3 separate regions of the Homo sapiens genome follow, and regions 2 and 3 are each linked to region 1. The links come from fine-mapping of genetic effects on gene expression. A gene starts in region 1. Each other region holds a variant in brackets. All regions are shown on one strand. Distances are between the middles of the regions.

Region 1 (2,843 bases):
CACCGTCCAGGAGAGGGCCCGCCTGAGGACCTCTGTCTGTGCCGCGCGTGGTCAGCCCCGGTCCCCTCACTCCATGGCTGGCCCCTAGCCCTTCAGAGCGGACACCTCTCCTTAGGGATGCAGGGCGAGGAAGGGCGGGTGGAGCTGCGAACCCACGGGGACCTGGAGGACCTCTTGGCCCCCTGGAGAGGGGTACTATGAGAGGGATTCATGGGACACAGATTTGGGGGACTGGGTAATTTTACCCCCTTTGGCAACCATAAAAACCCTGAGCAAACGTGTCCATTCGCTATTTCGCAGAAATATACAATGCAGGCCCACACAGGCATCTCTGCGAGGCCCCCTAGTTAAGGGCGCAGCGTTCTTCGGAAGCTCTTGGTCTTGCTACCAGGGCGTCACCGGCTTTTCCGCACTGGGGACATTTCGTTTGGGCTCTGCGCAGCCGTTGCACCTAAGGCCCTGGGAGCTCCGCGTTCCTCCCCAGGCGCCCGGGACAAAGTGCCCGAGGGCTCCGCAGACGTCCAGCCCTGCCCGGGGCTCACGGCCGCCGGGGCTCTCCAACGGACCGTCGAGGGCCACGTTTTGCTGGGGTGTGAGCGACGATTCTTTTCCCGCCCTATGAGGCCCGCCACTAGCTAGGTGCCCCATGAGACGCCGTGGCGAGCACGGCTACCTGGCAGCTCGCCCGGGCAGCCCCAACTTAATTTCCTGCCCCTCGGGGCACCTTTCCCTCGAATAGCTCTCCTCGGCCCCTCCAGCCCTGCCCAAGGGGCCTGGAAATGTTCGCAGCTTCAAGAAAGGCTCTATTTAAGCACAGGATGGGGTGGGGCGGGCGGGGCCAAGATTGCCCTGGGGATTGAATTTATCTCCGCTCCCAGCGATCCCCGGCGGATAAAGCGCAAGTTTGTGCACACGGTCGACTGAGCCATTGGAAACCCAGCTCACGAACCGCAGCCAGGGAAACGGGAGTTTGCCCAGTTGTCCTTGCGGAGGGGTGTGCGGAAACGCCCGCGATGGGAACTTTCTGCAGATCATGTATGGAGGGAGCTCACAAAAAGGAGGAAGGGGAGCGCGGTGGGGAGGAGGCCGCGTGGGCGTGGAAGGTCCCAGGGTCCTGGGGGTGCCCGCCTGCTTAGGCGCAGGGAATGGCGCGGAGCTGGCTGGGGAAGGAGCCGATCACGTCCCGCAGGCTAATTGGCTTAAGAAATTTTGCAAGCGCTGGAAAAGGTCGTTGAAGGAGTTCGCTGCACGCGCACGCACACACATACACACACACACAAAATCTTAAAAAAAAAAAAAAAAAAAAAAAAAAAAGAGCGCCGAGCATGCGCACAGAGAGGATGCCATATTGGAATGAGCTGTAGTGGGAGCCGGAGGACCGGAGCGGGCGCGCGAGGGAGGCGGCGGGCGGGGAGCGAGCGGGCAAGGGCGGGCGAGCGAGCAAGCGAGCGAGGCCGGTGCCCTCCCGGGCGGCGACCGGGGCCTGGGTCCACGCCGAGGGCAGGACGAACTTCACCAGGTAGGACGCCGCGCCGGCTGCTGTCCCCGGCGCCCAGGCTGGCCGGAGAGCAGCCCTTCGGCCCGCAGGTTGAGTGCGCTGGTCAGGGGCTTTTTCCAGCCTAGGAAAAAAAAGGAAAAAAAAAAAAAGGAAGGAAGCCTGAGGGAGCTGGGGTTGGAGGTGGCGGGTGGGGGAAGGCTGGGGAGGGTGCAGGGGAGCGAAAGAGAAGGGCAGGAGAAGAAAGCGACTGCACTTGAGCGAAGCTTCAAACTCCTCTGTGCGCTCCAGGTTGTCATTTTTGCTTCCCGGGTCCCCTTCGCCTGCGTCTCCGGGCTCGGAAAAGCCGAGCCGTGCGGGAGTCCGTCCGGAGTTGCAAAGTGTCCTCCTTCCCCGGGCGCAGCCTGTCCCCTCCCGCCGCCCACCTTCCTCGTTTCTGCACTCATTTTAGCGACGCAGCCGCCGCTGCTACCTACCCCGCGCTCCCGCGTCTCCTCCGCGCTGGGGTCTCCCCTTTCTTTTGGTTTGGGTGGGAGAAAAAGATGGTGAGGACGGGGAATCGGAGACCGGCATGGGGGTAAAAATCGTGCAGACATTCGGAATCGCTCCCTTGGAAACATTTGCCTGAGCAACTGAAATAAAATTGGCAGTAGTAGTTTTGGAGCGTGCTCCAGCGAGGATGGTCTTTTTGTTCATTATTTTCTCTTTAAAGTAATATCCTGTCACTTAGGGGCTTTCCGGTTGTCTCCTCTTATTCGACCCCCTTTCAAAATTGCTGACTTGAGCTGGTTCTGGAGTTTATTTTTTAATATGCGTGCGTGGGTATGTGTATGTGTGTGTATGTTTTGCAGAAATCCGCCAAAATGCAACTGTAGGAACTGCGAGATGTATTTATTGATTTTGACCAGGGGCGGTGGGAAGGGGCTGGAGGGAGCTGGGGGATCCTGGAGGGTGGGAAGTGGCTGATTCTCGGTGGCCGGACACTCATCCAGAGCCTGATCCGTACTCGTGTTTTCTTGGAAGCGCCACAACTGCGGGGAAGGAGTCTTTAGAAACCGTGCCAGTTTCAATATGGCGGGCTAAGGTGGCTTTTAAAAACTGAAAATAAAGGTTTTGAGGTGGGAAAAAACCCAGCTGAAGTTTCCACCCCTTAGTTTCGACTCTCTTTGGCTACCCCAGGAAGCGCTTTAGCGAATTAAGTGGGGAAAAAAAGAAGGAATGGGCTGTCCGGTTTTTTTTTTCCGTGGTTAGAGTCTGTGTGTCAAGTCCATTGCTAGGGGGGAAAGGGATGGAGAAGTGCCCCTGGCCCGGACCAGGGCACCGAAACGCAACTGTCGTGTGTGCCTGT
Region 2 (2,500 bases), 89 kb before region 1:
CAAGGTCCAAGCATCACCTTTAGATAGATGGGACCCATCTTCAATCACATTATATAGTCGGTTCCTCAGGAATTGAGGTGAGACCTAACAGAAAATCATGGCTGGTGGGCAAGACGATGGAGGATATAGAAACTGCTGCTTTATCAAGAGTTGAAGGTGACAGTCAGCCAGGAAGTGGTCAGAAGACGCAAGTCCCCTGAGCCGCGGGAGCACTGCATTGGGACAGTGCCACGGTGCTGGGATGGTGGGAAGAAGCAGCTGCCTGTGAAGGCTGGGACATTGCTCTGCGGGATGCAGAGGTGCAGCTGAGGAAACTGCACACCACTGCCAGTCCACCAGCACAGCTCCACGGTGGCCTGCGCCTCTAGAGTGAGGCAAATGGTCACTGTGGGCAGCGCCCGGCTGGAAGGAGATGCAGATGTGACTCCATTCCACCGACTCCACTCCACTCCTCCTCCAGAACTTGACCCTTGTGGACTGTAGCAACCCTAAGCTACCTCTCAGGCAGCCAGGATTCTGATCTGGAGTGGGGCGATTCTTTTTTTTTTTTTTTTTTTTTTTGAGATGGAGTCTCGCTCTGTCACCCAGGCTGGAGTGCAGTGGTGCAATCTCGGCTCACTGCAAGCTCCGCCTCCCAGGTTCAAGTGATTCTCCTGCCTCAGCCTCCCGAGTAGCTGGGACTACAGGTGTGTGGCACTACACCCGGCTAATTTTCGTATTTTTAGTAGAGACAGGTTTTTGCCATGTTGGCCAGGTTGATCTTGAACTCCTGACCTCAAGTGATCCACCTGCCTCGGCCTCCCAAAGTGCTGAGATTACAGGTGTGAGCCACCGTGCCCAGCCGATTCTTATTTCCATTCTGCAGCGTTTCATGAGAGTTCTCCTGCTGCACCGCAGGGAGAGGCGGGACACTGGCTCCACAGCCAACCCCTCTGCACCCCGGATTCATGGGCCTATCCAGCAGACACAGGTAGCCGCCCACAGCCCATTGCCCACCCGGAGGCTTTTTTCCAGTAGAGAGATGAGAGCGTGTGTTCTGCCCACGTACGGACTAGCAGTTTCCACATTTCCTGAGGTGCAGGGCACCGTGCTGGCTGCTCTGGGGCATTAAAAAAAATTAAGAGACTGGCCGGGCGCGGTGGCTCACGCCTGTAATCCCAGCACTTTGGGAGGCTGAGGCGGGTGGATCACGAGGTCAGGAGATCGAGACCATCCTGGCTAACACGGTGAAACCCTGTCCCCACTTAAAAAAAAAAAAAAAAATAGCCAGACATGGCGGCCTGCGCCTGTAGTCCCAGCTACTCGGGAGGCTGAGGCAGGGAGAATCGCTTGAACCCGGGAGGCGGAGGTTGCAGTAAGCCGAGATCACGACACTGCACTCCAGCCTGGACAACAGAGCAAGACTCCATCTCAAAAAAAAAAAAAAAA[AG/G]GCCGGGCGCGGTGGCTCACGCCTGTAATCCCAGCACTTTGGGAGGCCGAGGCGGGCGGATCACGAGGTCAGGAGATCGAGACCATCCCGGCTAAAACGGTGAAACCCCGTCTCTACTAAAAATACAAAAATTTAGCCGGGCGTAGTGGCGGGCGCCTGTAGTCCCAGCTACTTGGGAGGCTGAGGCAGGAGAATGGCATGAACCCGGGAGGCGGACCTTGCAGTGAGCCGAGATCCCGCCACTGCACTCCAGCCTGGGCGACAGAGCGAGACTCTGTCTCAAAAAAAAAAAAAAAAAAAAAAAGTTGAGAGATGACATAACTCCTGCCATTAAATAATTTACGATCTAGTGAGAGGTCTACAAGCAGTGCTGAGCGATGGTGCAGGAGCTTGTTCTTGCTCGCGCTAGAAGCTCCTTACTGTGCGCTGCAAAGAGAAGGGTCTTGCCCTGGAGGAGGAATTTAGAACATTGTGAAGCAAGGATAGATCATAAATGAGGCTAATGGGTAACTTCCCAGAGAAAATATGGATTCGAGCTGAGCAGAAGCTGAAATCTTGGCCCAGCATTAGCAAAACTGAAATCACACTTTGGAGATGCATTACTTTTTAAAAATTATTTACTGATTTAATGCATCCACTGAATTTATAATTTAAAACTAATTATAAATTGTATAATTATATTTTTATAATTTATATTTTAAATGTTTTATATTTCTATTTTATATCTTTATACATTTTTATTTAAAAACTTTTTATAACTTAATTGTTTAATTTATTATAATTATATAATTTTATTTTTATTGACGGGGTCTTGTTCTGTCTCCCAGGCTGGAGTATAGTGGCACAATCATAACTCACTGAAGCTTCAAACTCCTGGGTTCAAGCTATCCTCCTACCTCCACCTTCTGAGTAGCTAGGATTACAGGTACATGTCACCATGTCTGGCTAATTTTTAAGATTTTTGTAGAGATGGGAGTCTCACTACGTTGCCCAGGCTGGTCTTGAACTCCTGACCTCAACCTATCCTCCTGCGTTGGCCTCGCAAAGTGCTTGGGATTACAGATGTGAGCC
Region 3 (2,779 bases), 230 kb after region 1:
GCTTGGTATAGTTTGAGTCATTATATGACTACATGCCTTTATATTATTTCTAAGTGCTTTTGAAACAATCTCATACTTACAGAAATATTGGAGGTACAGAATAAAGATACTATTCATTCTCCTGATTGATTTGGGATAAGTTGAAGGCCTGATGCCCCGTCACCCCCAAATACATGTTGAATATCCTTTATTCCAATTGCTTGGGACCAGAAGTGTTTTGGATTTCATCTTTTTTCAGCTTTTGGAATACTTGCAGTATACTTATATTATGTTGACACTCAAAAATTTCAGAATTTGGAGTATTTTGAATTTCAGATTTTCTGATTAGGGATGTACCTGTACTTTTTTTTTTTTTTTTTTGAAATGGAGTCTCACTTTGTCACCCAGGCTGGAATGCAGTGGCACAATCTCGGCTAACTGCAACCCCCGCCTCCTGGGTTCCAGCGATTCTCCTGCCTCAGCCTCCTGAGTAGCTGAGACTACAGGCGTGCACCACCATGCCCAGCTGTTTTTTGTATTTTTAGGAGAGATGGGGTTTCACCATGTTGGCCAGGATGGTCCCAATCTCTTGACCTCGTGATCTGCCTGTAAGCAGGCTTTTCTAACGGGAGTGGCTCAGGCCTGCTGTGTTCACCCTTTTCTGTGCGCTTGTGGTGGAACGTAGGCTCCAATTCCAGTCCAGCATGCCAGGGTTCATCCTAGCCTTTTCCTTCCCTATACTTGCAACTCCGGCTGTGACAGTGGAAGCCTGGCCTGTGCTCTCCACCTTTGGAGTATGTATTTATTTCGTCAGGCCCCAGCGTCTCTCCAGTATCCTCACCCTCCCAACAGCTGTCCCCACATGCGACGGCCTCCCCCCTGCGTCCCTCCCGCACTTCCATCCTTTTCCCTGGTGGGTTCCTCCCAGATGGGTTTCATCAAGGAGGGCCCTTGGGACCAATGCCTTTGGAAGGGAGGGGAAGGCAGTGGGATTGAGAAGACAGAGATCATCCCACAGTGAGGCCAGGCAGGCACCCGCAGCAGCTCTGGGGTTAAAGGCTCTTCATGGCTGTCCGGAGTTGGGCCCCAGTGACCTTTTTACCTCCTCCACAGTCAGTCCCTGGATGGGGCCCTTCTGGGAAGGGCAGGGCCAAGGCAGCTTTTTGCAAAACCCTAAAGGGGGCTGGGCACAGTGACTCACGCCTGTAATCCCAGCACTTTGGGAGGCCAAGGCGGGCAGATCACTTGAGGTCAGGAGTTCAAGACCAGCCTGGCCAACATAGCAAAACCCCATCTCTACTAAAAATACAAAAAAAAAAAAAAATTACCACTATAGGCGTGGTGGTGGGCACCTGTATTCCCAGTGACTCAGGAGGCTGAGGCATGAGAATCGCTAGAACCCAGGATGCAGAGGTTGCAGTGAGCTGAGCTCTTGCACCATTGCACTCTGGCCTGGATGACTAAGTGAGACCCTGTCTCAAAAAAAG[C/A]AAAAAAAAGCAAACCTAAATAAAAGGGCCACAACTGAAGGCTTTCTCCCAGCAGGTGGGGCAACAAGCCCCCCAGTGAAGGGGTCCAGGCAGCACGCCATCCGCCAGCTTCCCCAGCCCGTGCCCTATCCTTACTCAGTCCCCTCTACCCCTCACTGCCATGGCTTCTAAACAGAATTGTTCAGGAAGGGCAGGGAAGAGAAAAGGAGCCCGCTGTTTTTAAATGATGCTATAACTTAAATCTTCATACCTTTAGATGGGCTTTTCCCTATTGTGAAAGTTTTTACTGAAACACTTGTTTCCGTGAAATCATCCCAAACTAGGAAGAGAAAATTAAGCCAGCCTGGTTCTGTTTCCCCCAGATAACCGCTCCCTTCATCCGTCGCTCCGATGTGGCAGCGCGTGTGTGTGCTTCGTCACCTGGAGGTTTGATGAGCAGTCTCATCTTTGAGCCTTGTTCTGCAGTTTGTCCTCTGACCTGGCTTGCACATTTCTCCTGCGTTCTTATGTCTCATTATTTTATTTTTCTAGGGACTCTAAGAATCTCGATAGTGAGCTCTTTCCAACAAAGTTGTGGGGCCACCAAACTCGTAGTGGATAAAACTGCAAGGGAAAATGTAGCCGTGAAGCACTTTTATTCTACATTTCCCATTTTTACTCTCCATTTCCCACAACACGAGGAACATACGGTGTTCCCAGTTGTGCTGTTTCTTTTGTTTTTTTTTTTTTTTTTTTTTTTTTCGAAAATGCAACAAAAGCAATAAGCAAGAACCGCCCCAACGTGGGTCCTGGAGTCCCTCTTCAAAGGCACGGAGAGGGAAGTCTCTACACATAGGGTCAATGGAGGGCCTAGAAAAACCAACAGCCATTCAAGGCTGTAGGATTTAAAGCATGATCTTATCTACAGAAGATTACTTTCTAGTTCTCACTACATGGAAAGTCAAGCTCGACCCATCAGAGAAACTGAAGAAAAACAAACACCCAGGGGCTGGGATATGAAAGACCCTGAATAAATATGAAGTAAATTTAGTAGAGTATGCAGATAAAAAGTACAAGTTGGAATTTAATCCTTAATTTTTTTTGCCGTTGATACTTTAAAAAAAAAAGATTTATTAGTGGAAAAGTATTTTTCCAGTCTTTAGAAAGACATTCCTAAAAAGCTGGAATTTCATATTTCAGTAGTTTGGTGATATGTGAACGAAATAAAAACCTATGATCTGTTGCCAGTTGAGAAGCTGACCATTACTTTGTCCCCATGATAGGGTTAAAAATCTGTCAAAAGGTGATTGAAACCTACAAGTGCTTGTGTTTTC

Direction of the effects. Alleles are on the strand shown, and positions count from the first base shown. SD is a standard deviation of normalised expression in the study named. Not every link is listed here.
With allele C in place of A in region 3, the expression in monocytes of the gene that starts at base 1,346 in region 1 is lower (large effect, 1.1 SD a copy in Schmiedel 2018).

The links. PIP is the estimated chance that this variant, and not a neighbour inherited with it, causes the effect. A credible set is the group of variants that fine-mapping cannot tell apart.
Region 2: its variant is the best candidate, but not a certain one, in a credible set for the expression of SFMBT2 in whole blood (INTERVAL, PIP 0.60).
Region 3: its variant is the best candidate, but not a certain one, in a credible set for the expression of SFMBT2 in monocytes (Schmiedel 2018, PIP 0.87).

The regions. Positions count from the first base shown.
Region 1 is chr10:7,409,537-7,412,379 of GRCh38, reverse strand. It overlaps SFMBT2 (Scm like with four mbt domains 2), which reads left to right and starts at 1,346. Exons shown (of 21, transcript NM_001387889.1): 1 at 1,346-1,519. RefSeq lists enhancers at 1-176, 177-1,097 and a silencer at 1,333-1,472.
Region 2 is chr10:7,499,113-7,501,612 of GRCh38, reverse strand. No RefSeq gene overlaps it. Among named protein-coding and RNA genes, the nearest start is that of LINC02642, 28 kb to the right of the region's middle. The variant AG/G (reference allele first, on the strand shown) is at 1,429.
Region 3 is chr10:7,178,820-7,181,598 of GRCh38, reverse strand. All of the region lies in intron 16 of SFMBT2 (Scm like with four mbt domains 2), which reads left to right. Among named protein-coding and RNA genes, the nearest start is that of SNORD129, 6.6 kb to the left of the region's middle. The variant C/A (reference allele first, on the strand shown) is at 1,467.